Linked DNA regions of Homo sapiens. The protein of the gene in region 4 interacts with the protein of the main gene of each other region in a pairwise test. Each region holds a gene or a part of one and is shown on either strand. Other genes may lie near its edges. The genes, in order: RBM5, EIF4ENIF1, SMAD9, PKP2 and PIBF1.

Evidence for each region.
Region 1: the proteins of PKP2 (region 4) and RBM5 interact in a two-hybrid assay, tested with the Homo sapiens proteins (one large-scale study listed by BioGRID).
Region 2: the proteins of PKP2 (region 4) and EIF4ENIF1 interact in a two-hybrid assay, tested with the Homo sapiens proteins (one large-scale study listed by BioGRID).
Region 3: the proteins of PKP2 (region 4) and SMAD9 interact in a two-hybrid assay, tested with the Homo sapiens proteins (one large-scale study listed by BioGRID and IntAct).
Region 5: the proteins of PKP2 (region 4) and PIBF1 interact in a two-hybrid assay, tested with the Homo sapiens proteins (one large-scale study listed by BioGRID).

What each region holds. Positions count from the first base shown.
Region 1 is NC_000003.12:50,107,672-50,113,883, forward strand, and holds part of RBM5 (RNA-binding protein 5), read left to right. Parts: intron 1-398; coding exon 399-476; intron 477-560; coding exon 561-633; intron 634-1,931; coding exon 1,932-2,017; intron 2,018-2,707; coding exon 2,708-2,792; intron 2,793-3,007; coding exon 3,008-3,099; intron 3,100-5,711; coding exon 5,712-5,873; intron 5,874-6,212. UniProt on the Homo sapiens protein: Component of the spliceosome A complex. Binds to ssRNA containing the consensus sequence 5'-AGGUAA-3'. Regulates alternative splicing of a number of mRNAs.
Region 2 is NC_000022.11:31,457,301-31,463,512, forward strand, and holds part of EIF4ENIF1 (eukaryotic translation initiation factor 4E transporter), read right to left. Parts: intron 5,834-6,212; coding exon 5,632-5,833; intron 1,351-5,631; coding exon 1,175-1,350; intron 1-1,174. UniProt on the Homo sapiens protein: EIF4E-binding protein that regulates translation and stability of mRNAs in processing bodies (P-bodies). Plays a key role in P-bodies to coordinate the storage of translationally inactive mRNAs in the cytoplasm and prevent their degradation.
Region 3 is NC_000013.11:36,909,156-36,915,367, forward strand, and holds part of SMAD9 (mothers against decapentaplegic homolog 9), read right to left. Parts: intron 1-6,212. UniProt on the Homo sapiens protein: Transcriptional modulator activated by BMP (bone morphogenetic proteins) type 1 receptor kinase. SMAD9 is a receptor-regulated SMAD (R-SMAD).
Region 4 is NC_000012.12:32,794,160-32,800,371, forward strand, and holds part of PKP2 (plakophilin-2), read right to left. Parts: intron 2,140-6,212; coding exon 1,950-2,139; intron 1-1,949. UniProt on the Homo sapiens protein: A component of desmosome cell-cell junctions which are required for positive regulation of cellular adhesion.
Region 5 is NC_000013.11:72,793,948-72,800,159, forward strand, and holds part of PIBF1 (progesterone-induced-blocking factor 1), read left to right. Parts: intron 1-1,411; coding exon 1,412-1,610; intron 1,611-3,959; coding exon 3,960-4,079; intron 4,080-6,212.

The DNA.
Region 1 (6,212 bases), on a different chromosome or scaffold from region 4:
CTTTTTTTTTTTTTTTTTTTTTTTTTTTTTTTGAGACAGAGTATCACTCTCGTCACCCGGGCTGGAGTGCAATGGTGCAATCTTGGCTCACTGCAAGCTCCACCTTCCAGGTTCAAGTGGTTCTTCTGTCTCAGCCTCTTGAGTAGCTGGGATTACAGGTACCTGCCACCACGCCTGGCTAATTTTTGTATTTTAGTAGAGATGGGATTTCACCACGTTGGCCAGGCTGGTCTTGAACTCCTGACCTCAGGTGATCCACCCACGTCAGCCTCCCAAAGTGCTGGGATTACAGCCGTGAGCCACAGCGCCCAGCATCATGAGCTCATTTTTAGGGACTTCTGAATTTTTTTCCTTAATGCCTACTAAGTTTGTCTTTGTCTCATTTTGATGTTTTGTAGTCTCAAAGTGGTGAAGGAGGCAGTGTTGACTACAGTTATCTGCAACCAGGTCAAGATGGCTATGCCCAATATGCTCAGGTAGGTAGATTTTAGCAGCATCCACCTTATAGTCTTGCAGAGTGTGTCTGAGAATAGCAGCTTTAATGGTGGACTTTTCTTCAGTATTCACAGGATTATCAGCAGTTTTATCAACAACAAGCTGGAGGATTGGAATCTGATGCATCATCTGCATCAGGTAGTAAACTTCATCTCCCTTTTACCTTTTGTTTAAGCACTTACAGTTGAAGAAATATGATTAAATGTCCTAACTGGACCAAAAGCTACAAGTCCATTTCTCTGTAAGATTGTAGGGGGCATGGCCGGGCACGGTGGCTCACGCCTGTAATCCCAGCACTTTGGGAGGCCAAGGCAGGTGGATCACGAGGTCAGGAGTTCAAGACCAGCCTGGCCAACATGGTGAAACCCCATCTCAGCTAAAACTACAGAAATTAGCCAGGTGCGGTGGCAGGCGCCTGTAATCCCAGCTACTCAGGAGGCTGAGGCAGGAGAATTGCTTGAACCCGAGCGGCAGAGATTGCAGTGAGCTGAGATTGCGCCACTGCACTCCAGCCTGGGCGACAGAGTGAGATTCTGTCTCAGAAAGAAAAAAAAAAGAATGTAGGGGGCATATTCAGGGCTGTCATCATGTACCCAAGGTTCTGGGGAAGAATACGGTTATTTGTGTACACCAGGAGTTAATACAAGGTCTTAGAGACCATGTTGTGATGAGTTTAATTCTTGGAATTCAACTCTGTATTTCCCCTCTCTGTGTTTGGAGTCGTGAGTGCCCACGTAAGTTCAGGTGAGCAGAGAGGATGTGGCCCTGGAGACTGGTGCTCAGACATCAATCAGAAGAGCTACTCTAAGAAGCCTTGGCTTTAATTTTTGTTTCAGGCTTTAAAAAGCCTTGTGAGTTAAATCTTTCTCAACCCCAGAGCAAATATAGATCCTTTCTTCTCTTCCTTTTCTCTTCTTTTTTTTTTGAGACGGAGTCTCGCTCTGTTGCCCAGGCTGGAGTGCGGTGGCGTTATCTCGGTTCACTGTGAGCTCTGCCTCCCAGGTTCACGCCATTCTCCTGCCTTAGCCTCACAAGTAGCTGGAACTACAGGTGCCTGCCACCACTCCCGGCTAATTTTTTGTATTTTTAGTAGAGACGGGGTTTCACCGTGTTAGCCAGGATGGTCTCAATCTCCTGACCTCGTGATCGGCTCGCCTTTTCCTTCCAAAGTGCTGGGATTACAGGCCTGAGCCACTGCACCCGGCCTCTTCTCTTTTTCTTAGCCATGATACAGAATCCTTAACTTTGTATATCACATCTAGTAGAATTATAAGAAAATGAAAATGTCACAGATTCCAGGGTACTTAGTGGAAGTTAGCTTATGAAGAACTGACATATACAATGACAGAAGAAGGCTAGATTGGGCATTACAAATAAAGATGTTTGGGTTGGCGTTCAGTGCCTTGGCTTTCCCTAACACTTGTGTTTATCATCAGGCACAGCAGTGACCACCACCTCAGCGGCTGTAGTGTCCCAGAGTCCTCAGCTGTATAATCAAACCTCCAATCCACCTGGCTCTCCGGTAATCCTGTTGTCCTATATACAAAACTCGTGGCTGATGGGGAAATTTTGTTTTGCTATACAAGTATTACCCTTTCCTGTTGTATGAGCCAGGATTGAGTAATACACACTTCAACCTTATTTCTTTCTGTTGTTTTAAAATATTAATTTTATGATATATATGTGCATGTATATTTTAAATATAAAATTTCAACTGTGTATTTACACTTTATGCATGCTTGACCTTTAGAAAGTTGTCGCCGGGGCCGGGTGTGGTGGCTCGCGCCTGTAATCCCAGCACTTTGGGAGGCCGAGGCGGGTGGATCACGAGGTTAGGAGATCAAGACCATCCTGGCTAACACGGTGAAACCCCGTCTCTACTAAAAATACAAAAATTAGCCGGGCGTGGTGGCACATGCCTGTAATCCCAGCTACTCGGGAGGCTGAGGCAGGAGAATTGCTTGAACCCCGGAGACGGAGGTTGCAGTGAGCCAAGATTGCGCCACTGCAGTCCAGTTTGGGCAACAGAGCAAGACTCCTCTTGAAAAAGAAAGCAAAAAAGTTGTCAACATGTGTTTTGCTGAGGGATTGCCTTAGATTATTGCTACAGTGTGTCTGTCAGGGGAGCCCTTCCTCCTGGATGATTGCAGTGATTTAGCTCTCTTAAAAGGCTTTACAGTTGAAATTATATTGAAGCTGCTGTTCTTTCCAGACTGAGGAAGCACAGCCTAGCACTAGCACAAGTACACAGGCCCCAGCCGCTTCCCCTACTGGTGTAGTTCCTGGTACCAAATATGGTAAGCCAAACCTCATGGGGCTGTTGACAGTTGGAAGGTCTTAGTTGTTGTCTTTGTTTAATGAGAGTTCTTCTCCCTTTGCGGGTGTCAGAGGGACACTTGGGGATGTGAGACAGAGAAGAAACATTAGGCCTGCTGCATCTCACTGGCTTAGAATTTGAAATAAAGCCAATTTCTTACCTGGAATGACTGTATGCTGGATTTTGTTTTTGCAGCAGTACCTGACACGTCCACTTACCAGTATGATGAATCTTCAGGATATTACTATGATCCGACAACAGGGCTCTATTATGACCCCAACTCGCAAGTAAATGTGCTGCTTTCCTCCTCAATTTCACTAGAAGTAGTTTCGCTTAGTGCATTTATGAGGCATAAAATGAAATATTTCCTGCAAAAGAATATATGACTCAGATTAGTTTTAACTTCTTCAAAGCCACCAAAATGTAATTTTTATATGGAGATTGTAAGTTTTAATTGTAGGGTTAAAAAATGTTTTGAGGTATAATATACACACAAAAAAATACACAAAACAGAAATGTGCAATTCTTTGAATGTTTATACATGTCTATACATTTGTATATTACATGTGTATATACACCACCACTTATTCCCAGCCCACCTAATCCTCATGCCCATTGCTGGTCAGTAACCTATGTCTTCAATAACCACTATTTTGATTTCTGTTGCCATAGATTATTTTGTCAAGTTACAATTTATGGAAAGACCTAGCTAGAAATTTTAAATTGTACTTTTCTCCCTATTGTTTAACCTTTTAGAGTGTACAAATCAGTGGCTTTTAATATATTCACAGTGTTGTGTAACTGTCACCACTGTCTAATCTCAGAACATTTTCATCACTCGAAGAAGAAACCCTGTACCTGTTAAACAGTCACTCCCCATTCTGTACTCTCCTCCAGTAACTACTAATCTACTCTCTGTCTCTATGGATTTGCTTTTTTTATTTTTTTTGTGGCACGATCTTGGCTCACTGCAGCCTCCACCTCCTGGGTTCAAGCAATGCTCCTGCCTCAGCCTGCTGAGTAGCTGGTAGCTGGGATTACAGGCGCCCACCACACCCAGCTAATTTTTGTAGTCGAGACAGGGTTTCACCTTGTTTGCCAGGCTGGTCTCGAACTCCTGACCTTAAGTGATCCACCCGCCTCAGCCTCCAAAGTGCCAGGATTACAGGCATGAGCCACTGTGCCCAGCCCTCTGTTCTTGACATTTCATATAAGTGGAGTCAGACAATAGATTACCTTTTGTGTCCAGCATCCTTTACTTTGCCTCCCTGTGTATTCTTGAGGGTAGAATTTAGCAGATGTATGGAGTGATGTTTTATTTTTGGTGGCATATATAACTTTTAAAAGGGAAAAACAACTTTAACACCCCATAAATAACTCTATTTATGACCGGGAGCTGTATATATAGAACAGTAATAAGTATTTTTAACAGGAACTTGGCATTGATAGGTTGTGGTTTCTGAGAGATTGAAGTGTGAAGCTGTGTGTGACGTGCCTAAGCAGGCCAAGCCTCTGCATACCTCTTCCATCCACTTCTCTCATTTGTGAAGCCTGGCCATTTATTTCCCTGTCAGTTCTTTTTTTTTTTTTTTTTTTTTCCCGTCAGTTCTCTTTGGTGGCCTTAGAAGTTGTGTCTGTAGGCTGGGCGCAGTGGCTCACGCCTGTAATCCCAGCACTTTGGGAGGCCAAGATGGGAGGATCACTAGGTCAGGAGATTGAGACCATCCTGGCTAACACAGTGAAACCCCGTCTCTACTAAAAAAAAAAAAAAAATACAAAAAAATTAGCCAAGCGTGGTGTCGAATGCCTGTAGTCCCAGCTACTCGGGAGGCTGAGGCAGGAGAATGGCGTGAACCCGGGAGGTGGAGCTGGCAGTAAGCGAATGTCGCGCCACTGCACTCCAGCCTGGGTGACGGAGCGAGACTCTGTCTAAAAAAAAAAAAAAAAAAAAAAAAAAAAAAGTTGTGTCTGTTAGCCACGCCACCTTACCCAGAAGAGACAGACACTGTCTCCTGGGTCCCTGTTGAGCAGATAGAGTGAGCGACTGGAAAATAGAGGAGAGGATATGTGACACCTCTCCTCTGTTGCAATTCCTGCTGAGCTTGGGTCCCTTCACCAACACCTCCTTCCAGCTCTGTGCTAGTGTTTACACCCTGTGTGTGGTTGCCTGGTATCCAATGGATTCTATGTGGATGGGCCCAATGATGAGCTGTTGTCATGGCAGATGTCTGAACTCCATGACACGCCCACCTGTTCTGGCTGCCTGGTTTATGTAAATAGTCTGTGGAACAGAGTGAGACAAATTGCTCTTTGGGTGCCCTCTAGGTAGGCCCAGGGATTAAATTAATGGGAACTAGACTTTTTAAATTTTTATTATCATTTTTTTTGAGATGGAGTCTTACTCTGTTGCCCAGACTGGAGTGCAGTGGCATGATCTTGGCTCACTGCCACCTCCTCCATCTCCCAGGTTCAAGCAGTTCTCTTGCCTCAGCCTCCTGAGTAGCTGGGATTACAGGTGTGCCATCATGCCCAGCTAATTTTTGTATTTTTAGTAGAGATGAGTTATCACCATGTTGGCCAGGCTGGTCTTGAACTCCTGACCTTGGGTGATCTGCCCACCACCACCTCCCAAAGTGCTAGGATTACGGGCATGAGCCACTGCTCCCGGCTGGGAACTAAACTTTTTAAAGAAATCATATTCTATTTTTACTCTAGCAGTGTCACACCTCTTTGCTAGGTGGTTCATCACCTTTACTTATACCAAGGTGTGCCCAGGGTCTTTTCTGGGCAGGAAATATCACTAGTCCACAACATACTTTATCTTTTTTTTGACAAAATATGTAATCGACTGACATAGCAGAAAGTCTGCATTAATTGTTTTTTGTTTGTTGTTTTCTAGTACTACTATAATTCCTTGACCCAGCAGTACCTTTACTGGGATGGGGAAAAAGAGACCTACGTGCCAGCTGCAGAGTCTAGCTCCCACCAGCAGTCGGGCCTGCCTCCTGCAAAAGAGGGGAAAGAGAAGAAGGAGAAACCCAAGAGCAAAACAGCCCAGCAGGTTAGAACATGACCCATATTTCTTTCATTGAGGTATTGGGCTGAACTCTTAGTTTTGGGGTTGTAGCATTTATGTCAGTATTATTTGGATTCTTAAAAATTGGGCTTCACATTTTATTCATACTAAGTTCTTAGAGCATTTTGCAATTTGTTATTGTTACCATATCTTGACTGTCAGCCTGTGTACTTAGGGAAAAAAGCCCTGGAAATCTCAAAGCTTTTCAAGCAGTATTTATGAATGACTTTGGTTATATGTGATAACATCTAATGGAAATATTTGTAGGTGGAAGTAAGAGTAAAAGGGGTTTGTTACAGGGCATATAGTTGAGATAAGATCCTT
Region 2 (6,212 bases), on a different chromosome or scaffold from region 4:
TGAAATAGTGCCAATCTTTCTTAAAAACTAGATTTAAGCATTTAAAAAATTTTTCAATTCAAATCATACCATAAATTCAGTCAAATATCCAAATTGATTTTTTGCAGTATTCTTATCAATATTTAGAAAAGACAAGATAGAGCAAACATCTATCCAAAAATCAGACATATCCTTGAAAATAAGTCATATACTTTCACGTCAATCCCACTGATAAACAGAAAACATGCTTTTTCAAAAACTGGTACATGGATGACAGAATTAGTGACTGTTTTATTTGAAATCTGGAACCCACAGTTTCCAAAGTTAAGCAGGGGAAGCTTAGATTTATTCTTTGTTCTTATCTGGAAGAATGTTTTCATAATCCATACCCAAATTAAGCCACAATATACTTCTTTTGAAGGGATTTTAATTCAAGACCCTAATTATTGTTTCCAGAATTTCTATTTTCAGAGGAATTATCTAGACAATTTCAATCACATTCCACCTGTAGATGCTCATACCTTAAATAATGCTGACTTTTAAGTGCACTAATTTTGTATTAATTAAAATATAAGATAAGCATGATACATCACTGTGAAAAATTGGGGAGTGTATCCAAAATATAAGCATCTTAGTGATAAACAGGAATTCTAAAAATAACTTTAAAAAGCCAGGTGCGGTGGCTCACGCCTGTAATCCCAGCACTTTGGGAGACCAAGACAGGAGGATCACAAGGTCAGGAGTTCAAGACCCGTCTGGCCAACATAGTGAAACCCCATCTCTACTAAAAATACAAAAATTAGCTGGGCATGGTGGCACACACCTGTGATCCCAACTACTCAGGAGGCTGAGGCAGAAGAATCGCTTGAACCCAGGAGACGGAGGTTGCAATGAGCCAAGATCGTGCCACTGCACTTCAGCCTGGGTGACAGAGTAAGATTCCAACTCAAAAAAAAAAAAACAACAAAAAAAGAATTTTTAGTCTAACACCACCAGCTTAAAAAAGAGTTAACTGGTACAAAAATCTCATATTATCCATTAAGCCTCTCAAAACAAAGCCAACAAAAATTTAAATATGTAAGAATAAAAGCCAAAAACCCCAAAAGCATCTAGCAAAACAACACTTTCAAACCGATGTCTTAAATACTCAGGTCAAATTTAACCACACATTTTTTAAGTGTGCTGCTACACTCACCGAAGCCAAGCATGGCACCTTATCAAGGTTAAAGAACTCATTAAAGTCAAAGTCTCCTGGGGACTGCTCAGGCAAGACAGCATCCCTTGGCACTTCCTGATCAGCCGCAGGCTCCTGTGCAAGGATGACCTCCACTTCATCCTCTTCGGCCACTCCTCCATTGCACTCTACTATACCTGAAAGCAAAACCAGGACAAAAACCGTCTGATAAGTAAATCACTCCAGTGTCCCTCTGTGGCTTCAGCCATCAGTATACATGTAGAAGAGCCACACATGACTTAAAAAGCAGACTTCTCGTGCAGGTACTGTACTTGCAAGAATAAAACAGTCCCCCTTCTACGGGAGGCAGAAAAGGAAAAAAGCCTTAATAAAGCTAGAATACCAATGGGATGTGGGGAGGATTATGGTTCCCTTCGTGGGAACTTCATATTTTCTATAGTGGAGGGGGGTCTTTTTTTTTTTTTTTTTTTTGAGATGGGGTCTTGCTCTGTTGCACAGGCTGGAGAGTAGTGGCACGATCACAGCTCACTGTAGTCTCTACCTCCTGGGCTCAGGTGATCCTCCTGCCTTAGCCTCCAGAGTATCTGGGACCACAGGTGCACACCACCATGCCTGGATAATTTTTTAATTTTTTGTAGAGACTGAGTCTCGCTAAATTGCACAGCCTGGACTTAAACTGCTGACCTCAAGTGATCCTCCTGCCTTGGCCTCCCAAAGTGCTAGGATTACAGTAGTGAGCCACTGTGTCCAGCACCATGCCTAGTTCTTTTTCTAGTGATTTTTTTTTTAAAGGATAGTCTTTGCAAGTCTCTTACTGCTTAAAAATGGAACCAAATTAATTTAGCTCTGCTTCTGCCCATGCACCTGTAGCACCACTTTCAGTCAGGGCTCAGCAACCTAAGGTATTTATGAGAAACCTGGCATGAGGGCAATTTTCACTTGCCTACAGGTTGGTTGTTGTAGCTCATCCTTCAAGGCGAAATTCAAATGTGACCTTCTCTGGGAAGCTTGCCCTGCCTACCCATTTTTGCCCTACCTAGTAAAATTAATTGCTACCTTCTCTATAATCCTTATGTCATCTCTGAGTACTTGTCACACTGTATAATAGTAACTCTCTGGTGAGGCTAAACTCTGAGGGTAGGGAACCTGGTCTAACCAGCTTTGTCTTACTCTGTAGTGCCAGGTATACTCTACAATGTTCAGTTGTTTTTAGGATGGGGAGACAAAGTGAAACTGCCAGATGCTAACATTTAAGGCATCTGACATCTTAGTTTTTAATGTTTTTATTTATTTTAAATACATAGCAAGGGCAACCTAGAGACATTCTGTAGTTAGCTAATGGGATGAACCAAGACCCCTGGATTCTACTCCAGGCTCTGCCATGAAATCCATCCCTTCTCTCCAGGTCTCAATTTCTCTCTGCATCTGTAAAATAAGGAGGTGCCACTACCAATCTATCTCACTCCTGACTCCTGCACTTGATACAAGAATGGTTGAAATTCAGATTTCACCTCACTTAAGAAAAACATAATTTTTTCTCACCAGAAGCCTGATCTTTATCGTTAAAGTGGTGCTTTATTGGGTGCTGCTTTAATTAAGAATGAGACAAAGACATATCTCAAAGCCAATTTAATAGCAAAGTCTTCCAAGTTACCTATCAATTTCTTACATTATCCTAGGGAACACTGTGTGATAGCACAAAGATAATGGTAATATGTACTATATTTTGAAGACTACAAAAGAAGATGAGTATTTTGATTCTCCATTTCCTTCTCCTTCTAAATAAATGCCATCAGCTTATTTCTGCTTATATTTGTCTTCATCAAAATGTTAAGGTGGCACTGATTTTTCCCTTATTTATTAAAATAGCTTTCCCAGACCAGGCGCAGTGGTTCACGCCTATAATCTCAGCACTTTGGGAGGCTGAGGCAGGTGGATCATGAGGTCAGGAGATTGAGACCATCCTGGCTAACACGGTGAAACACCATCTCTACTAAAAATACAAAAAATTAGCTGGGTGTGTTGGCACGCGCCTGTAGTTCCGCTACTCCGGAGGCTGAGGCAGAATTGCTTGACCCTGGGAGGCGGAGCTTGCAGTGAGCCAAGATCGCACCACTGCACTCCAGCCTGGGTGACAGAGCGAGACTCCGTCTCAAAAAAAAAAGAAAATTAATTAAAAAAAAAAATAGAGGACTGGCGCAGTGGCTCACGCCTGTAATCCCAGTACTTTGGGAGGCTGAGGCGGGTGGATCACGAGGTCAGGAGATCGAGACCATCCTGGCTAACATAGTGAAACCCCATCTCTACTAAAAATACAAAAATTTAGCTGGGCGTGGTGGTGGGCGCCTGTAGTCCCAGCTACTCGGGAGGCTGAGGCAGGAGAATGGCGTGAACCCGGAGGCGGAGTTTGCCGTGAGCTAAGATCGTGCCACTGCACTCCAGCCTAGGCAACAAAGCAAGACTCCATCTCAAAACAAACAAACAAACAAAAAACAAAAAAAAAGGCTTTCCCCTTTTGTTGCCTAGTATCTGCCAAAAGGCTTTCAACTAAGCCTGAAAGCTTGAGGCAGGTAGAATTTACTGAGTGCCTTCTTGGAGGCTGAGTTCTGATGGGTACATGTGTTCTTCAATGCTAAAGGTAACCCTTAAGTTATGATAGGCATTGTTCTTCCCTTTACAAAGAAACAGGCCCAGCTGTCAAAATTTTGTCAAAAATTATCCTTTTCTAAGCAGGAGCCCTAGTACTTTAACCCAGGTTAGTCCCCACCTGGCTCTACAGTGCCTCCTTCCCAAGACCATCAGCCTGGGACTGGCCACCTTAGAGCCAGGTCACTGCCCTAAAAAATGATTGGCTGCAGACCAATGGGCTCCCACTCTGCAGCAGGTACTTCACACACATTAGCTCTGGCTCCTTCAGTTTAGCAAGGGAGATATCTGACCCCATCTTACAGCTGAGGAAACTAGGTTTTTTTGGTTTTTTTGGAGACAGAGTCTCAACTCTGTCTCCCAGGCTGGAGTGCAGTAGCACAATCTCGCTGCAACCTGTCTCCTGGATTCAAGCAATTCTCCTGCCTCAGCCTCTCCAGTAGCCGGGAGTACAGGCATGCGTCAACACACCCAGCTAATTTTTGTATTTTCAATATAGACAGGGTTTCACCATGTTGGCCAGGCTGGTCTCAAACTCCTGACCTCAAATGATCCACCCGCCTTGGCCTCCCAAAGTGCTGGGATCACAGGCGTGAGCCACCGTACTCATCCTGAAACTAAGTTTGAGAGAAGGCAAATCACAAACAACTGACCTGGGAAGGCCTAATACCATGATGAAGAAGGTAGGCTCTGATGCCCAGAAGCATCTTGCTTTACTCTTGACTTCACTACTTATTTCCATGGTGACTACCTTAAGTGTCCTTGAGTTACTTAAGCCCTCTGAGCCTCCATTTGCTCATCTATGAAATGGGCATAAAAAAGTACCTACACTGCACAAGGTCATTAGGAGATGAAGGATTACACAGACAAAATACACTCACCACTGTGTTTAGGACATAATTGCTCAATAAATGAGACCTCTCATTTTTCTACCACGTTTCTTATTTCTGGGGAACTCTTTCATGTACACAGTCCTCTTACAGGATAACTTCAGACTTTTCTGTTTAGTGTGGCAGGCAGAACGAGTTAGGGAAACAGTATGATCTACACTTAGTGAATCCTCACTTAAGCAGTTGCAGGGGCTGGGCATGGTGGCTCACACCTATAATCCCAGCACTTTGGGATGCCGAGGCGGGTGATCACCTGAGGTCAGGAGTTCGAGACCAGCCTGGGCAACATGGTGAAACCCCATCTCTACTAAAAATAGAAAAAATTACCCAGGCGTCATGGCAGGCACCTGTAATCCCAGCTACTCGGGAGGCTGAGGCAGGGAAGAATCGCTTGAACCAAGGAAATGGAGGCTGCAGTGAGCTGAGATGGTGCCACTGCACTCCAGCCCGGGCAACTGAGCGAGACTCCGTCTCAAAAAAAAAAAAAGATTTCAAAATCAGGATGCATCATGAAAAACTTGCCATTTCCTATACATCTGGTGCCCATTCCTAAGTGTACAATTAGCCAGTGATAATCACATCTCTATTTTATTTTTGAGACAGTCTTGCTCTGTCACCCAGGCTGGAGTGCAGTGGTGTGATAGCTCACTGCAACCTCTGCCTCCCAGGTTCAAGCAATTCTTGTGCCTCAGCCTCCCGAGTAGCTGGGACTACAGGCACCAGCCACCACACCCCACTAATTTTTGAATTTTTGTGGAGACGGGGTTTCACCATGTTGGCCAGGCTGGTCTCAAACTCCTGACCTCAGGTGATCCGCCCACCTCGGCCTCCCAAAGTGTTGGGATTACAGGTGTGAGCCACCACGCCCAGCCTACATCTCATTTTAAAACAGCGAACTTCCCTCCCAAAGTTTGAACTGACCTTCCTTCACAGAGGCTGTCCGTCGCCTTGTTCTTTTTCTCCCTTTGTGATCTTCTTCTAGTATCTTATCATCAAAGCCAGTCAGTTCGATGGTTTCAGACTGACTTGTGGGTCCAGCAGAGAACCACTCTGGTTCTTCTTCTGTGTAAGAATCATTTCTTCTACGCTCACCAAAGACACGCTTACTATCTCCAAACTCTCTCTGGAAAAGTACATAAAGCAAGATTAAAAAATTTCTAGTCAAGCCATTTCTACTTCAGTCAAGGTCTTCGTTGTAATGTTCAATAGTGAAAGGAAGATATGATGCTGTATACCTGAGGCCCATCACCACCCCCACCCCTTCCTCCCTGACTGGTTTAAGAGCAGGCTGTGTTCATGCCTGTTCTCAAAGTAACCTGGTATAAAAAAAGTGAATATCAAGTCCCCAAGCACATGAACTACCAAAGAATCTAGAAGACAAACCCAGGTCGGGTGTGGTGGCTCACGCCTGTAATCCCAGCACTTTGGGAGGCCGAGGCAGGCCGATCACCTAAGGTTGGGAGCTTGAGAGACCAGCCTGACTAACATGGAGAAACCCCGTC
Region 3 (6,212 bases), on a different chromosome or scaffold from region 4:
ACAGTTTTTATTGTTGCTCATTATCACTTCTTTGGAAGACAGAACCACTATTCCATTGCCTGTTTGCTATGTAGTGAAAGGGAAGTAGAATGGGCATTAAAGCAGCAAAGACAGGAGTCTAAAGGTCATGCCCAATAGTTTGGGTCACTTAAGGTAGGTTTAGAATGTTCTATATTTTTCCATGTAATAGTCTGAATATTAAGATCATATTTAAACATTTCAGTGATAAGCCAACATAACAGTGATACAAGAGAAGGCCAGCACTACCTTGTAGAGATCATGGTGTAAGTTTCTAGTATTGCAACCTACATTCTTTACACATACGTAATAAACTGTATATAATTTACACACACATATAGTCAGCATATTCTTGGAAACACTGTATGCCACCCCACAAATGTGTTATTTTATTATTTAAGTTTGGAAGGGCCCACAATTTAATGCTTCCAGAAGCAAGAGGCAACATGATATAATGAATAAAACACAAGAATGGAGGAAGAAGACTCCAGTCTGAGTGCTAGTACCATCACTGTCATCTTCAAGTAATTAGTCACTTCCATATTGTTTCCTCCTCTGTAAAATGGAAACAATAGTCACTACCTTTTGTGCAGAAGTACTGAGGGGATGTGAGAGAAAGCAGTTTGAAAACTGTAAACTAAGATAATATTGTATATTACCAACATGGAGGTATACTTCTGTTTATTCCTCCTGTAGGCTTCACTGTGGGAGTTAAGAGGTGCCCCAAAAATTAAAAACAACCGGCTGGGCGCAGTGGCTCACGCCTGTAATCCCAGCATTTTGGGAGGCCGAGGCGGGTGGATCACGAGGTCAGGAGATCGAGACCATCCTGGCTAACACGGTGAAACCCCATCTCTACTAAAAATACAAAAAATTATCCGGGCGTGGTGGCGGGCGCCTGTAGTCCCAGCTACTCAGGAGGCTGAGGCAGGAGAATGGCATGAACCGGGGAGGCAGAGCTTGCAGTGAGCCGAGATCGCGCCACTGTACTCCGGCGTGGGGGACACAGCGAGACTCCGTCTCAAAAAAAAAAAAAAATTAAAAACAAGCTCTTTAAACTAAAATTTAACCACCATTGACTCCAGGATCCTCAAATACACTATGTTCAAATGTAGAGATGGAACCATAGTGAATATGAGAAGAGGGAGGGATGAAAACACAGACCACAGAGAATTTGCAGGGCAATGAGACGACTCTGCCTGATACTACCATGGTGGATACACGTCATGATACACTTGTCCAAACCCACAGAATGTACACCACCAAGAGTGAATCTCCCAAATTTCTACTCTGAGTCTGTATCCATACATTTTACACTTAAAAGCCCACTAAATATCATGAGGTGGGGGTTGTGAGTTGACGCCTGTAACATCAATTTCAAATAAGGCTGTTCGCAATCTGGCCTCCCCAGACTACATTCCCAGCCTCATCTCTTTTCACTCCCTTTGCCCATCACTCCTTCCCTCCCTGCCCAGAAGGCCCCTGTGCAGCTCTATCTTTCCTGCTCCTTCTTCAAAACAGAGCTGGAAGCCAACTTCCTGGAAACCTTCCCTGGAGGCCCCCAGGCAACAGCACTGATCAGCTCTCTGCTGCTCCTCTGGGCTTCCACAGCACCTAACATGTGCTAGTCACTCACAACAGCACTTACCACACTTGAATCCCCAGATTTGGTAAGTGTTTTCTCCAGAGATGCCTAGCCTTCTATCAGGCCACAAGCCAAGCCACATTGTGGTCTGTACTACCTACCTAGCATGCAGGAGGCCATCAATAAATGTTGAATGAATGAAAGTAAAATCCAGTTTTATCAATACCATTAACTATTGTATTATTAATATTATTATTACTATTTTGAAAAAGGGTCTTGCTCTGTCACCCAGGATGGAGTGCAGTGGCGTGATCATGGCTCACCGCAGCCTCAACCTGCCAGGCTCAATAGATCCTCCCCCTGCAGCCTCCTGAGTATCTGGGGCTACAGGCACGCCCCACCAAGACCAGCTAAATTTTTAAAATATTTTTCTCATAGAAGGGTTTTCACCATGTTGTCCAGGCTGGTCTCAAACTCCTGGGCTCAAGCAATCTGCCCCCCTTGGTCTCCCAAAGTGCTGGGATTACAGGCATGAACCATTGCACCTGGCCAACTATTGTATCATTAAGCCCCATGTAATTAATTGAAGTTCTAACCTAAAGCCCATTGCTTTACTAACGCAATACAATAAATTTCTTTGAAAGACAGAATTATATAATGCATTCCCTACTTCCTATGCATAGTCTATCTACTTAAGGTAATATTATATAGAGCATAATCTGTCTGAATACTTGTAAAGTATTAAATGACTATAAATCATCTGTTTAATATATATATTTTTAATGATGTGTGGGCAATTTTTAAAATTTTATAGATGTGTGTCTCGAGGAAGGCTGTTTCCCGGCCAAAGGCTGCCTGGGGGGGGGGGGGGCGGGTGGAGTTCATAAACTGATAAAGAATCACAAATAAGCCGTGTTATGAACTGCTGTTCGGGGAAGCTCAATTTATTTTTTATTTTTTATTTTTTGAGACAGAGTTTTGCTCTTGTTTCCCAGGACGGAGTACAATGGCACAATCTCAGCTCACTGCAACCTCTGCCTCCTGGGTTCAAGCGATTCTCCTGCCTCAGCCTCCCCAGTAGCTGGGATTACAGGCATGTGCCACCACACCCAGCTAATTTTGTATTTTTAGTAGAGATGGGGTTTCTCCATGTTGGTCAGGCTGGTCTTGAACTCCCAACCTCAGGTTATCCGCCCACCTCAGCCTCCCGAAGTGCTGGGATTGCAGGTGTGAGCCACCGCACCCAGTCGGGGAAGCTCAGATTTTTATTTGCTAAAGAGAAGCATGAAGCAGTGGAGATGGTGTGTCAACTGCTTAGCTAGGAGTTGTGGCCATTTAAAAGCATGCAAACCACTTGAATTTGTCTTCACTCTTCCAAATACCCCTTTGATTATGTGATTCTTCTGTTCAAACCATTTAATAGTTATCATGACTACGGGTTAAAATTGAATAGTTCTCCTTTGCCTACAGATTAAATCCAAATTCCTTGCCCTTCCTTCCACCTTACCCTACAAAAACCAACCTATTTAGGGAAGAGAAAGGTGGGATCGTTGAAAACCCAACATATTTAGGGAAGTGAAAGGTGGAGTGGTTCAAGTATCAACAATGAAGTGGACACTACCCTAGCAGCTGAATATTTCAAGATAAGACATGGTCCCTTTCCTCTATACTACTATTGAGACAGCAATCTAAACATATTATTATCAGGCAAGTAATAGGTGCACTATTACAACAGTTACTAGAAGAGTGTATTCAAAGTGGTCTGGAGGCCCCTGGCTGGCTAAAAGGGTTGGGTGGGGTTTCCTATAGGACCAGCCATGCAAACTCACTCACCCTTGAACCAGTAAAGGGTAGCAGGGAAAAACAGGAGGAAACTGTACAAAGGCTGGATCCTCCTCCTGACAGACTCAGGAAGTAGTGAAATTCCATGGCCTAGGGATGTTCTCAGCATCTCTAAGTTCTCATAAGGACTTACTGAAAGAATCTCTTCCTGTTTATGTCTTCTATTTTACCTCTACCTTCTAGTTTACCTCCCAAATCCCAAATGAGATCATTCTCATTATCCTTGACAAGACTAACTAAAAATTCACACACAGAAAATACGGAAGTCTAATCAGGAAAAATACAGTCATCCCCAGGTATCTATGGGGGATTCAGTCCAGAATCCCCACAGACACCAAAATCCAAGGATGCTCAAGTCCCTCGTATAAAATGGTATATTTGCATATAACCTACCACATCCTCCCTTATACTTTAAATCATCTTAGCTTACTTATAATACCTACTATACTGTAAATGCTATGTAAATGGTTTTTATATCTTATTTTTTATTTGTGTTATTTTTAATTTTTTCTCCAATATTTTTCATTTGTGGTTGGTTGAATCTGTTGATGCAGAAACTGCTGACTCACAGGGCCAGCTGAATAGAGAAATAAACCCAAATAGATTACAGTTTGGGGAAGTAAGACATCTTACTATTGGAGAAATATTTTAATATTTGCTTTCTTGATCTCTTTCACGCTAACTACACTATGAAATCCTGGAGACTAGGATTTTATTTTTGTCACTTCATTTCGTTGTGTAGTCCCCAGGGCCTGTTCTGGGGCCTCATAGGCAGGGTAGACACAATAGACACAGAGTAAATAATGGTTGAATGAATATCCTATACAAGCCCCATAAATTTACAAGTTCCACCTTCTAAAGTGATTGCTACACCCACAAAATTGCAACACTTTAAAACCCCAAGATATAATCAATACAACTTTAAAAAAATAAAGTGTATTTAGAATATCTTGTAATAAAATTAGATGCAATGACAACAGAAAGCAAGTAAAACTGCCACTCCTTTGAAATAATACCAACTTGTCATTATTTGCAAACACAGCCAACACCTAATGACTGCTTTGTGTAAACATATAGTCAATAAGCTGAAAGGGAAGCATTCATGTCCATAAATGTTTGTCTTTGACAAATATTTTATTCAACTCCTATTCCTAAAAATAAAATTCTACTTCCACTAGAAAACAAAGAATGACTAAATGCATAAACAAGACAAAGAAAACCACATGAGACCTAAAATCTTTTTAGCTTAACACATTTTTCATCTTCCACATTCATTACCACCATTCTTGGCTTCTAATAATCACTTATGTCATTAATAATAATCACCCATATCATCAATCACTGGTGGTCTTGCTTTATGAACAAATGGTGTTCAATCCTGCATAGTTATTTGGAAACTGGAATTCACCTTCCCCTAGAACAATGTCATGAGTGCTAATGTACTTCCCTGGCCAGCTCACTAGGATCCTCTCAACTCACAACGCAGGTGCCTTTCATACTACTAACACTAATTCAAATATGTGATGTCTACCTTTGGCATCTGCCAATCTGCTTTCTGTAACACCCTCTTTCCACACTTAGGTGCCTCAAACTTCTCAACAGTGCTACTGCCCAAGCCTTAAAATGACTTACTCTCGGGCCAGGCGCGGTGGATCACGCCTGTAAACCCAGCACTTTGGGAGGCCGAGGCCGGCGGATCATGAGGTCAGGAGATCGAGACCATCCTGGCTAACATGGTGAAACCCTGTCTCTACTAAAAATACAAAAAATTAGCCGGGCGTGGTGGCAGGTGCCTGTAGTCCCAGCTACTTGGGAGGCTGAAGCGGGAGAATGGCATGAACCCGGGAGGTGGAGCTTGCAGTGAGCCGAGATGGTGCCACTGCACTCCAGCCTGGGCGACAGAGAGAGACTCCATCTCAAAAAACAAAAACAAAACAAAAAAAAACTTACTCTTCCTTCTTCCTTCCTCACTCCTCCTCTCAGCCAAACTCCAATTCTCTCACTGTGATTCTCAGCAAAGAAAGGAGCAAGATGAATTCATGAACTTATGATGAAGTGTACTGATAAGAGATGTCAAATATTCTGCCACAAAGTGGGAAACTGATGGAATCTGTGAATCCCTTTCTGCGTTACCATTAACTCCTGAAATGTGGTACTACCAAGTCAGTTAAATTTAGATACAAGAATTCAGAAAGCAACTCCTGGCACTTCAGTTGAACGCTACCATCCATCAAATGCTTCTTAAAAAAGACCTGCAAATCTGCTGTAAGCTTTCCATAGCCCACAAGTACGTAGGACAAAATCCTTTAGAATGACATTAACCATTGCACAATTATTGCGTTTTGTGAAAACAAATCAAAATACACAGTAACCAAAGTAAATCTGTATTTGATAGGCTTCTAAGCACTTTAACAGATGAAAAGTAAAAAACAGGCTGTATGGAAGAAGATATTCCATAGATTAAAGCAGTCATTTAAGGCAAATGGCCCAGTGTATCTAGGGATGTGCTCCTGGGGTCAGTGAGTTCAGGATGTGGCTACCTCACAGTGTTCACACTTCTACTACTTGCAAACTCTAAGTCGTCAGAATCCTCAACTCAGAATCCCCAATGTCACCAACACGTTTGAATGGCCGCAAGACCACATGTATGCTATCCAGATTCCTTTGTTCAGTGATAGAAAACTGGCAACTGGAGTCCTAGAATGAATGGGCATCCCTGGCACTCCTAGTGCTTGTAAACTGAAGATTGCTTTTCGCAACTGCAGCA
Region 4 (6,212 bases):
CAAATCAGCACTTATTAGTAACCCCTGGACTTTTCAGAATCACTTGGTAATAACTGAAGGGCAAATAAATCCATCAAAGTGATGGGTCTCTAATATTCAAAACTGTAAAAAGTTATTAAATTGCAAGGCTGTTATATTCATAATATTTGTTTATAAGTTGGTTGTTTGATACTTGGTACTCTTTTATTCAAAGATGTAATGTTATAAATGATAATTAGTTCCCAGGCTAGTCCACAAACGGTAGGTCAGATATATAACACTCTAGTAAGGAAAGAGCAGCAGACACCACTGGCAAGAAGCTCCTTGTTAACTTTTGTTTTTGAGACAGGGCATGTGAGGACTCACAAGTGGACACTCGGAAATAAACAAGTAACAGAGTAGCTCACCCCTTATCTTGCTAAGCTACCAGAAGTTTCCAAAAGTAATTGCATATTGCCATGTGCAACAATTGTTATGTCTGAATACTCGAATAATGAGCATCATACTATCTTACGGTGATTTGCTTGGAAGTTTGGATGACTATTTGGAAGAAAAGTCATTTCTGTTTTGCAACAGTAATTCACTCTTTCCACAAAGACTGAGCAACTCTAATACTATCTGCCAGCCTCTGGGGATGGGTGAATATTCTTGGGGAACTGACACTCCAGCCAGTGCTCAGGGCTTGTTTTAATCTGACTCTAAATGCAGTCTTCCTTCCTTGTGTGCACTGCAGAGTGGGGCTGCAGAGCAGAAGGGGCCTAAATTGGGTGGGGCTGTAGTAGAGGTAACATGTACATCCCTGTACAGCCAAGCACACATTTCTTCAGTACAGGTGAAGTCATCTGCTTTGTAACTCATTAAAACTAGGCTATCATAGCCATTTCTTTTCTTGTTTGGTTATTTACAAAAGTAACATATCTATTTGTAATAAGTCAAACAATTCAGAATTGTATAAAGAGAAAAAGATAATCTTCATGCCCCTTTCCAATCTCATCACTCTAAATTAACTAATAGTAAATAATTTGGTTATACAAGGTTTTTCATTCTCCTCCTTTTTTTTTTTAATAGGGAAAAGTTGAAAACAGGAACACAGATGTGGAATGACATGCATTGGACCTTCTATTATCAAAAGGGAATAAGATGCGGAAGAGATAAGACAGAGAAAAAACTGTGAAAGCAAGACTTTCTCATCAGGCTACCCCCTGACTGCTTCTCCTGTGTCATCACTGCTGCTGCTGCTTTTTTTTTTTTTTCTTTTTTGAGACAGAATCTCACTCTGTCAACCAGGCTGGAGTGCAGTGGCACGATCACGGCTCATTGCAACCTCTGCCTCCTGGGCTCAAGTGATTCTCAAACCTCAGTCTTCCAAGTAGCTAGAATTACAGACACGCACCACCACACCCAGCTAATTTTTGTATTTTTACTAGAGACAGGGTTTTGCCATGTCGGCCAGGCTGGTCTCGAACTTCTGACCTCAAGTGATCCATCTGCTTGGGCCTCCCAAAGTGCTGGGATTACAGGCATGAGCCACTGTGCCCAGCCCATCACTGCTTCTTCTAAACCACCTGGTGTGACATCCCCTCCTAAGATGGAAGTGAGGAAAAGGGCACTTGCCTATTCAGAGGACTCCTGCTTTGCCTACATTCTGCTGTTATTAAATCACAGCTGTGGCTTTGGGAAACTAATTCATTAGGCCAATACAATGCTGGAATGCACAACCAAGAGAAGTTCTGGAGTCTGACCCTCTGTTGATACTTTAGAAGAGAAGGGACAAGCATGTGGTGTGGTGGATTCAGTTCTTTCCTTGGCTGATCACTGAGGGCTGACCAGATGATCTGGCCTGGCTTTACATCCTGTTTGCTGCCATGTTGCACATGATGGTCATGACCGCACATTCACAACCGGATTATTTACACACAGGCTGGTGAGGGGAAAGGGAGGCAGCTGACGGGCAGAACTGAAGGACTTACGCATCGCCTGCACTAATGGCCATAATTTTCTGGATGCCCCCGGTGTTTAGAAGGTCGCGTGCATTCTGGTAACTGTTTTGGATTATGTTGTTCAATGTGTAACAGGCAGAGGCTGTAGTTTCAATGAGAAGGTCAGTACTCGGGACTGTGTCAGGAATGATGGAAACCAAATCAGGGAGAGTTTCTTTGGCTACAAAATGAAAAAAAAAACAAAACACTTGATTAAAAAGATTGTTTCTTAATCCCAAGATCCCAATATATTTTGGGTGAAGAACATTCTTTTTCTTTTTTTGAGACGGAATCTTGCTCTGTTGCCCAGGCTGGAGTGCAGTGGCACCATCTTGGCTCACTGCAAGCTCTGCCTCCCGGGTTCACGCCATTCTCTTGCCTCAGCCTCCCGAGTAGTTGGGACTACAGGCACCCGCCACCACGCCTGGCTAATTTTTTTATTTTTTTATTTTTTTTTATTTTCAGTAGAGACGGAGTTTCACCGTGTTAGCCAGGATGGTCTCGATCTCCTGACCTCGTGATCCGCCAGCCTCGGCCTCCCAAAGTGCTGGGATTACAGGCGTGAGACACTGCGCCCGGCCAAGAACTTTCTTAAAAAGAAACACAGCTGGTTAACAACACATGGAAAGATGTAATTTCCCTAATAACAAATTTTTAAAAATATTTGAAAAGAGGATACTCTGTGCTCAGTATATTGAAAATCTTTTCAGAGTGTAATTTGGCAGAAATGTCAAGAACTTAAAACATTTTCATCTTCTTCAATTCGGTAATTCCATGTCTAGGAATACATCTTAAAAATATCACTTTGAAAATGAAAAAAGCTTTCTACAGAGATCTTTATGACAGTACTACATGTAACTGAAAAACTAAAAAGCCTGAATATCCTTATAATAGGACTATGATTAACTAAAACACACCTGCAAAGACTATTATTCATCACAAAACCTATCTATGAAGCATGTATAATAAAAAGAAAATAATTATGTTAATAGTGTATGTGAAAAATCAGTATATTTATATAAATAATACATAATATTATTGGCCAGGTTCGGTGGCTCACACCTGTAATCCCAGCACTTTGGGAGGCTGAGGTGGGTGGATCACTTAAGGTCAGGAGTTCAGGACCAGCCTGGCCAACATGGTGAAACCCTGTCTCTATTAAAAATACAAAAATTAGCTGGGCGTAGTGGCACATGCCTGTGCCTGTAGTCCCTGCTACTCAGGAGGCTGAGGCACAAGAATTGCTTGAGCTTGGGAGGCAGAAGTGGCAGTGGGCAGAGATCACGCCACTATTCTCCAGCCTGGGCAACAGAGAGAGACCCTGTCTCAAAAAAAAAAAAAAAAAGAATACATACTATTACCAAAAAACCCACGTAAGAAACCTGAGGAAAAATGTTAATAGGAGCTGTTTTTCTACAACAATATTAATAGTGAACTAAAATCTTTTTTTTTTTTTGAAACAGAGTCTTGCTCTGTCACCCAGGCTGGAGTGCAGTGGCGCGATCTCGGCTCTCTGCAAGCTCCGCCTCCCGGGTTCATGCCATTCTCCTGCCTCAGCCTCCCGAGTAGCTGGGATTACAGGTGCCCGCCACCACGCCGGGCTAATTTTTTTGTATTTTTAGTAGAGACGGGGTTTCACCTTGTTAGCCAGGATGATCTTGATCTCCTGATCTTGTGATCCGCCCGCCTGGGCCTCCCAAAGTGCTGGGATTAGAAGCGTGAGCTACCGCGCCTGGCCAAGCTAAAATCATTTTTAAGGCCAGGCAAGGTAGCTCATGTCTGTAATCCCAGCACTTTAGAAGGCCGAGACAGGAGGATCACTTGAGCCCAGGAGTTTGAGACCAGTCTGGAAAATATAATGAGACCCCGTCTCTATTTTAAAAAGTAAAATTAAATAGTAAATAAATAATAAACGAATAATCTTTGCTTCCCAAGGTTTTTCCAATACATAAGTAATACTACTCTTGTTTTTTTTTTTTTTTTGGAGATGGAGTTTCGCTCTTGTTGCCCAGGCTGGAGTGCAATGGCACGATCTCATCTCACTGCAACCTCCGCCTCCCAGGTTCAAGCAATTCTCCTGCCTCAGCCTCCCGAGTAGCTAGGATTACAGGTACGCACCACCATGCCCGGCTAATTTTTTGTATATTTTTTTTTTCAGTAGAGATGGGGTTTCTCCATGTTGAGGCTGGTCTCGAACTCCTGACCTCAGGTGATCTGCCCGCCTCAGCCTCCCAAACTGCTGGGATTACAGGCGTGAGCCACTGCGCCTGGCCTACTATTTTAAAAAGAGAAATAAACTATTTTAAATGTACTTTTCTACTATGTATATAACTTCTTGGTTATAAGTTTTGAGTTTGGCTTTTTTTTTTTGTACTAACAAGAAAGGTATTAAAAAAATAGACATGCCACTTTCACAATTAGGCTATAGAAAATAAAAAAGATACATAGACCAATGGAATAGAATAGAAAACCCAGAAATAAAGCAAAATACTTACAGCCAACTGATCTTTGACAAAGCAAACAAAAACATTAAGTGGGGAAAGGCCACCCTATTCAACATATTCAACAAATGATGCTGGGATAATTGGCAAGCCACATGTAAAAGAATAAAGCTGGATCCTCATCTCTCACTTTATACAAAAATCAACTCAAGATGGATCAAAGATTAAATCTGAGACCTGAAACCATAAAAATTCTAGAAGATAACACTGGAAAAACTCTTCTAGACATTGGCTTAGGCAAAGAGTTCATGACCAAGAACCCAAAAGCAAATGCAACAAAACCAAAAATAAGTAAATGGGATCCAATTAAACTAAAAAGCTTCTGCACAGCAAAATAAATAATCAGCAGAGTAAACAGACACCCCACAGAGTGGGAGAAAATATTCACAAACTGCATTCGACAAAGGACTAATATCCAGAATCTACAAGGATCTCAAAAAAGCAAGAAAAAAGCCAAATAATTCCATCAAAAAGTGGGCTAAGGACATGAATAGACAATTCTCAAAAGAAGATATACAAATGGCATAAGAAAAATTTTTTGATACGCCTCATACATATGAAAAAATGCTCAACATCACTAATTATCATGGAAATGCAAATTAAAAGCACAATGAGATACCACCTTACTCCTGCAAGAATGACCATAATTTAAAAATCAAAATTTAATAGATGTTGGCATGGATATGGTGAAAAGGGAACACTTCTACACTGCTGGTGGGAATGTAAACTAGTACAACCACTATGGAAAACAGTATAGAGATTCCTTAAAGAACTAAAAGTAGAACTACCATTTGATCCAGCAATACCACTACTGGGTATCTACCCAAAGGAAAAGAAGTCATTATATGAAAAAGACACTTGTACATGCATGTTTATAGCAGCACAATTCACAATTGCAAAATATGGAGCCAACCTAAATGCCCATCAACCAACGAGTGGATACAGGAAATGTGGTATATACACACCATGGAATACTACTCAGCCATTAAAAAGAAAGACATAATGGCCTTTGCGGCAAATTGGATGGAATTAGAGACCACTATTCTAAGTGAAATAACTCAGGAATGGAAAACCAAATATTGGATGTTCTCACTTATAAGTGAGAGCTAAGCTATGAGGATGCAAAGGAACAAGAGTTATATAATGGATTTTGGGGACTTGGGGGAAAGGTAGGAAGGGGTGAGGGATAAAAGACTACACATTGGGTACAGTGTACACTGCTCAGGTGACATGTGCACCAACATTTCAGAAATAATCACTAAATAACTTTTGCATGTAACTGAACACCACCTGTACCCAAAAATCTATTGAAAATTCTTAAAAGGTGTTAATATTTGATAAATCCACTGGAACTTGTCCTATGGTACATATTTTGGTCAATGTGAACTTGTGCTTAAACTTTTTGTAATAGTTATTTTCATGTATGTTTTCCTCTTTTTCCTCTAACCACTTTAGACTCTTCTTAAAAGATAGAGAGCATGCATCTTTTGCTTTTGCTGATCCCCACAGCTTCTGAATACGTGTTGTGTTTATCAGCAATTAACAAATACTGCCTAATTTTATTGTGTGCCTTCATCTGTGTTCATGTGGCATCTTGAAGCACATTTCTCTCTCTATGATACTGATAGTAATGAATTGTGTGACTGTCTCAACTTCAGATGAGGCTGTGGGTTCCTTGAAGCCAATTATCTTACTTATTTCTGTGTTTACAGCGTTGATCATTATTCCTGAAATGGACAAGTACTCAATAAAA
Region 5 (6,212 bases), on a different chromosome or scaffold from region 4:
GGGGATCATTAGGCTATAGACAGTATTCAAGTCATGAGACTAGATGAATTCCCCAAGGAGTGCGTACAGACAGAAGAGGACCAAGTACTCCAACATTAAGACAAAGCAGAAAAGGAGACTGAGAAGGAACCACAGTAAAATAGAAGAAAAATGAACAGTATGATGTCTTGGAAGCCAGGTGATGAAAATGTATCAAGGAAAGAAAGTGACTTGTGTCAAGCTCTATCATTAGATCATGGAGGAAAAGAACTAAGAATTGATCATTTGCAATTTAGATGTCATTGAGATTTCATTGGAGACAGTAAAAATATGATCGCCATGGGTTTAAGAGGAAAGGATTTGGAGACAATAATTATAGACAACTTTTGAGCAAGCTTGCTCCAAAGGGGTGGCTAACAAAGGGGGAAGTGCAGTGAAGTCCAGAGTTGTGGTTTTGTTTGTTCATTTGTTGTAAGATTGAAATAACAGCATGTGTGTCTGTTAATGGGATTGATATAGTAGGGAAGGGGAAAATCAGTAATATGATTTGGCTGTGTCCCCACCCAAATCTCATCTTGAATTATAGCTCCCATAATTCCTACATGTCATGGGAGGGACCTGATGGGAGGTAACTGAATCATGGAGGTGGTCTTTCCCATGCTGTTCTCATGATAGTGAATAAGTCTCACAAGATCTGATGGTTTTATAAATGGGAGTTCCCCTGCACAAGCACTCTTGTCTGCCACCATGTAAGACATGCCTTTGCTTCTCTTTTGCCTTCCGCCATGATTGTGAGGCCTCCCCTGCCATGTGGAAGTCTGAGTCCAGTAAACCTCTTTCCTTTATAAATTACCCAGTCTTGGGTATGTCTTTATTAGTAGCATGAGAGCAGACTAATAACATCAGATTGTCCCTTCCTGATCAGAATCTTTCAGTAGGCAACTAACAATAATGTCTGCTACATGTATTCTTTGAGAATGATGAGTATGTGCAGATTACTGTTTTCATTACCTCATTGGTTGAGTGAATACCTTATGGTGGTTCAGTGTTACCATCTTAAAGAGATATCCTTGAAGTATCAGGATAAAAGGGAAATGAAAATTACTTTAATAAGTAGAGTCCTTGATGTTTAACATTAAACCTTAAGCAGAAGAAATATATAATTTTATAATTTGAATTTCTAAAATTATTCTTTAAGAATATCAATTCTCTGTTTAATAATTTATATGGTTACACATTTAATAATTAGTATGGAATTGTCATTTCATATTTAACTGATTAATATGAGTAAATAAGTATTTAGCTGGAGTAAGTAAATAATACTGTCAGGTTTCTGATTTCCTAACTTTATGTTGATATAAATAGGAAACTGTGAGAAAATTAGATCTCAAATACTTTTTTAAAGCCTGCCATAAATTCTCTTCTAATGTAGCAAATATCAAGAATTAATGAAACAAGAAATGGAAACCATTTTGTTGAGACAGAAACAACTAGAAGAGACAAATCTTCAGCTAAGAGAAAAAGCTGGAGATGTTCGTCGAAACCTGCGTGACTTTGAGTTGACAGAAGAGCAATATATTAAATTAAAAGCTTTTCCTGAAGATCAGCTTTCTATTCCTGAATATGTATCTGTAAGTATCTTATATCTATTTTTAACTATGACATATATTTTCAGACTAAAATTTACCATTTATATAGTAGCAATTACTTTTGAAGTACCCAATTGATACATTATTTTATGGCTATGGATGGTGAATGGTGTTGAGATCCAAATTTTAAAGGATCATGACCATTGATCTCCAAAGTCAAGCAATAAATAGGTTTCTGAAGTTAATGACTGCATAGTCCATAGAAATGAATTATCGTAAACTGGTGGTTTCTTACATTCTCAAAATGAAAAATTATAAACAACAGAGTAGTTGTTGCCAGGGGTTGGTTGGGGATAGTGGGAGAGAGGAGTCAGCGTGGTTATAAAGGGATAGGATGAGAAAGAACTTTGTGGTGAGAGATTGGCGCAAGATCTTGATTGCAGTGCTGGTTACACAAATCTAGAACACCTAGGATTAATCTATGGCAGTGGTCTCAAATATTTTGGTGTCAGCATTCATTTACATTCTAAAAGTTATTGAGGACCCCAATGAGTGTTTGTTTATATGGGCTGTATCTATTAATATTTACCATACTAGAATTTTAAACTAACAACTTTTTTAAACACAAGAATAAGCACACAATTCCATTGGCCTTAAGAGTGATAATGTCATATGTCATGTAGCCACTGGCAAACTCCACTGAACAGTCATGAGAGAATGAGAATGAAACGGGGAAAAAAAATCTTAATAATTACTAGGAAAGTCGTTTTGATCTTGTGAATTCCCTGAAAGGATCTCAGAGTGGCGAGTGGGGCAGAGTCCAGGAGTCCCAAAACCATATGTTGAGAACTGCTGCTTTTTAATATGTAGATGTCATTTTACCCTGAGAGGCTTGAATTTTTTAATCCCTAAAAAGGGTTAATAGTAACGGTGCGTTTCTATTGGGGATAATTGTAAAGACTATAACTATGTATGTAAAATGCTTGTGAGCATAGTGCTTAGAAGATAGTAAACACATAAAAATGTTGTCTATTGTTTTTGCTGGAGTGGTGGTTGCTATTCTTGGTTCTCATTGGGAAAAGATTTGCAGATTAGTGATGTCTGATAAAATGAAGTTACTTTTTTGTTCAGCTGTTTTTTTTTTTTTTTTAAAAGGCTCAAATACAGCTTTTCTGTCCAAAGTATACTGTCCAAAACAAATTAAATATCTCAAATTCTGTTTTTGAGGCTTCATTTACAGTAGATATAAAGTATCACACTGGTGGCAGTTACACATATTTTTGCTGTTTGTTTTCTTAATATTCCTTCTTACATCTTTTGTTTTCACAGACAATATTATCCTTAACTAATTAATTATATGCAGATTCTTTTTGTTGAGGGCTAGTATTAAGATTTGCCTCTTACCAAATAATGGTATTCTTGTAATACCGTCATATGTTAAGGAGTTTCAGATTGCATGCCTATATGATAGCCCCTAATTACTCTCTCCTAATTTGCTGTGATGATTTCTTAGTTTTATGGGACCTTGTCAGATGGAACACTTTACTGAGCTAGGGTAGGAAAATTTCTCTGAGACAAGTATGAGTGGAAAGAGAGACCTGAACTAAATGGAAGTAATGATGTGAAAGATACCTCTTGATTCATTCTGATTAGACTTCCACTGTAGGGACAGCAGTAAATAAAGCTTTGCCAAGAGCCTGGGATGAAAATAAAGAATACACTTTACCTCTTCATCAAGTATTTATTGAGTGCTTATCATATATTTAGGCATTGGAAATACAGCGGTGTATAAACCAGACAAAAATCCCTGCCCTCAGGTTGTGAAAGTGGAGCAACACAGGCAATAACTTAAAAATTAAATATGTAGAATATCTGTTTGTCAAAGGTGCTACAGAGAAAAGAGCAGGGGTGAAAAATAGGGAGTGCTACTTAAAATTAGGTAAAGAAATCAGGGAGGGCTTTACTAACAAGGTAATATTTGGTCAGAGACCTATAGGGAGACAAGGCATGAGCCATGCATTTATATGGGGGAAGAACTTCTCTAGCAGAAGAAACAGCAAGAGCAAGACTCCTGAACATTTGTGATATGTTCCAGAAGTTTACAAGCACCTAGTGTGGAGTGAGCAGTAGTAGATGAGTAGTAATGGAGTGTCAGTAGAAGGGAGGAAATACTGTCAAAGGTAAGAGGTTATAAATCATCTGGCCCTTGAGGGAAGTTAATTGAACATTAAGGCTTGATAGAAAGTATTAGTGGCTAGGGTCCATTAATGACTGTCTTGTTGTAGTTTTGTAAATATTTATCTTTATTACTGATAAGTGAGAGCACTACAAATTACAAATTTTAATTGTAATTTGGATTTAAGACTGCTTATTAATTTAATTTTTTTCAAGGTTCGCTTCTATGAGCTAGTGAATCCATTAAGAAAGGAAATCTGTGAACTACAAGTGAAAAAGAATATCCTAGCAGAAGAATTAAGTACAAACAAAAACCAACTGAAGCAGCTGACAGAGGTTTGTATGGTTTTGATTGCTGGTGGGAAGAAGCTTCGGCTTTTTCTGTAGAGTCCCTCAGGATTTGTGATAAGGCATATAAAAGTCAGTGATTGAAAAATGGGACTATGGGATGGTGACTGCTACAGTTCAATAATGGGAAGGAGGTTAAATTGGAAGTAGTCATCTTAAACATTGACAAGACAAGTCTGTGTTATTGACGTATCCTATAGTTGAGCTTTTATTGTTGCAAGTCAATTTTATAATCAACTGCTTTTGAAATCCTAATATGGGCTATATCTGAAAATTGCTGTGTATCCTTAGATGACGCATATGCATGTATTTATTTAGTAATTTGTCTCTATTTTTAACATCACTTTGTCAGGAAATTTAAGCAAGAAACAAGAAATGTAGGCCAAGCTATGCAGGGGATCTCTTGCAGGTGCCATAAGAAAGAAGAAAAGGAGAATATTTTTACTTTGAACTAAGTTGACTCGTAGGTTCTGGTTTGCCTAAGACTGTTGCCATTATTCCTGTGAATAAATATTAATAGCACCCCTTTATTTTCAAAATTATCTCAGCCTAGACGATGAATATAGTAATCATAAATCAACATTTATATAGAAGGGTGGACTAATCATTAACTTGGTTGTATTATTGACCAGATATCCTAGAATACTATCTTGTAGTTATAGTCTACTAACAAAAAAATAATGGTAGATTGATTCATTCTACCATGTAACAGTTGGAAATGGGTGGCTGTTTTTCTTCAAATATTTCGTTATTCTAAAAGGAAAACACTTCTAGTTTACAAATGGGGGCTGCTGCAGTTCTTCATTACAAGTTAGCCTTGTTCGTGATATGAGATGGAGCTACTGTCCATTTATTACTTACGTGGCTTCTTTGTGAAGTGCAGTTAACTCTCATAATATTTATTCTGAGCATGTGTACTGATACTAGCATTAACCCCAGTGGTGTGCATGGTGCTGTGCTAGGTGCTGGCAGTGAACCCAAGAGAGGCAATGCCTGCCCTTCTAGAGTTTACTTTCTAGCAGGTTAGGATTAGAACGTTAGGTGATATTTTGACACTCTCATTTACTGTGTGACCATGACCAGGTCATTTAATGTTTCCTGTTCTGTCAAATGGAGAAAATAATACTGTTTGTTCATTTATTTAATTGCATTGCCTATATTTCTGTTTCAGAGTAAAAACATGATTTTAGCAAAGTTGCATACAAACATTTATGTCCTATTTTAAGGGCAGTTTTTGTCAATGATATTATCCAGAAATAAATAATTATAATTTAATTTGTATTTTTAATGCTCTACTTTGCTGTACTATTAGTCTTAGAGATAATTTACTTAAGTCTTGCCATAGAACCAATATTTCAGACAAAATAAGAAGGCTTAGCTTCCTCTCCTCTGAGGAGCAGTGACATCAGCAGGAGCAATTAGAGGGGCAGATGTGCCCCCACTCCAAACTTCAGTTGTTTTCTTTTCTTCTCCTAGCATGTCATATTGTGCAGGTAAACTGTTTTGCACATTTAGAAAGATAGTTCAATTAAAAAAAAAATTCAACTGTAGTCAAAATAGTAGAGAACAGAGAAGGCCACTGTTTGGCCACTTTCTAATTTTGCAGCCTTGGGCAAATCATTTATACTCTATTGTTTCTGTAAAATGCCCAGGATGGTTTTGGTGGTACAGGGGTTATTGGGGAAGAGGCAGTTAGACAAGGTCTTAGCGTTGGTTCTATACACCTTATGGTACCTCAGCATCCCTCAAGGACTTCTTACTGTGTAGTAGGAGGGCTGGAGGAGCTCCCTATCCTTGTTTTTATCAAGCCACCCTTTTTAAAATAACCTTAATATTTGGGACTTCTCAGCATGATTTCTCTTGAACACAGATTCCTCAGGCCATTCTTAGAGTTTGTGGTTTTTCTGCCCTGTCAAGGACCTGGTACAGGTCAACTTGCCAAACACTAGGAAAAAAGTAAATATTTTTAAATAAAAAGCAAAACCAATATCATTAAACAGCTTTATTTATTTATTTAAACAGAGCCTTGCTCAGTCGCCCCAGCTGGAGTGCAGTGGTGCCATGTCTGCTCATTGCAACCTCCACCTCCTGCGTTCAAGTGATTCTCGTGCTTTAGCCTCC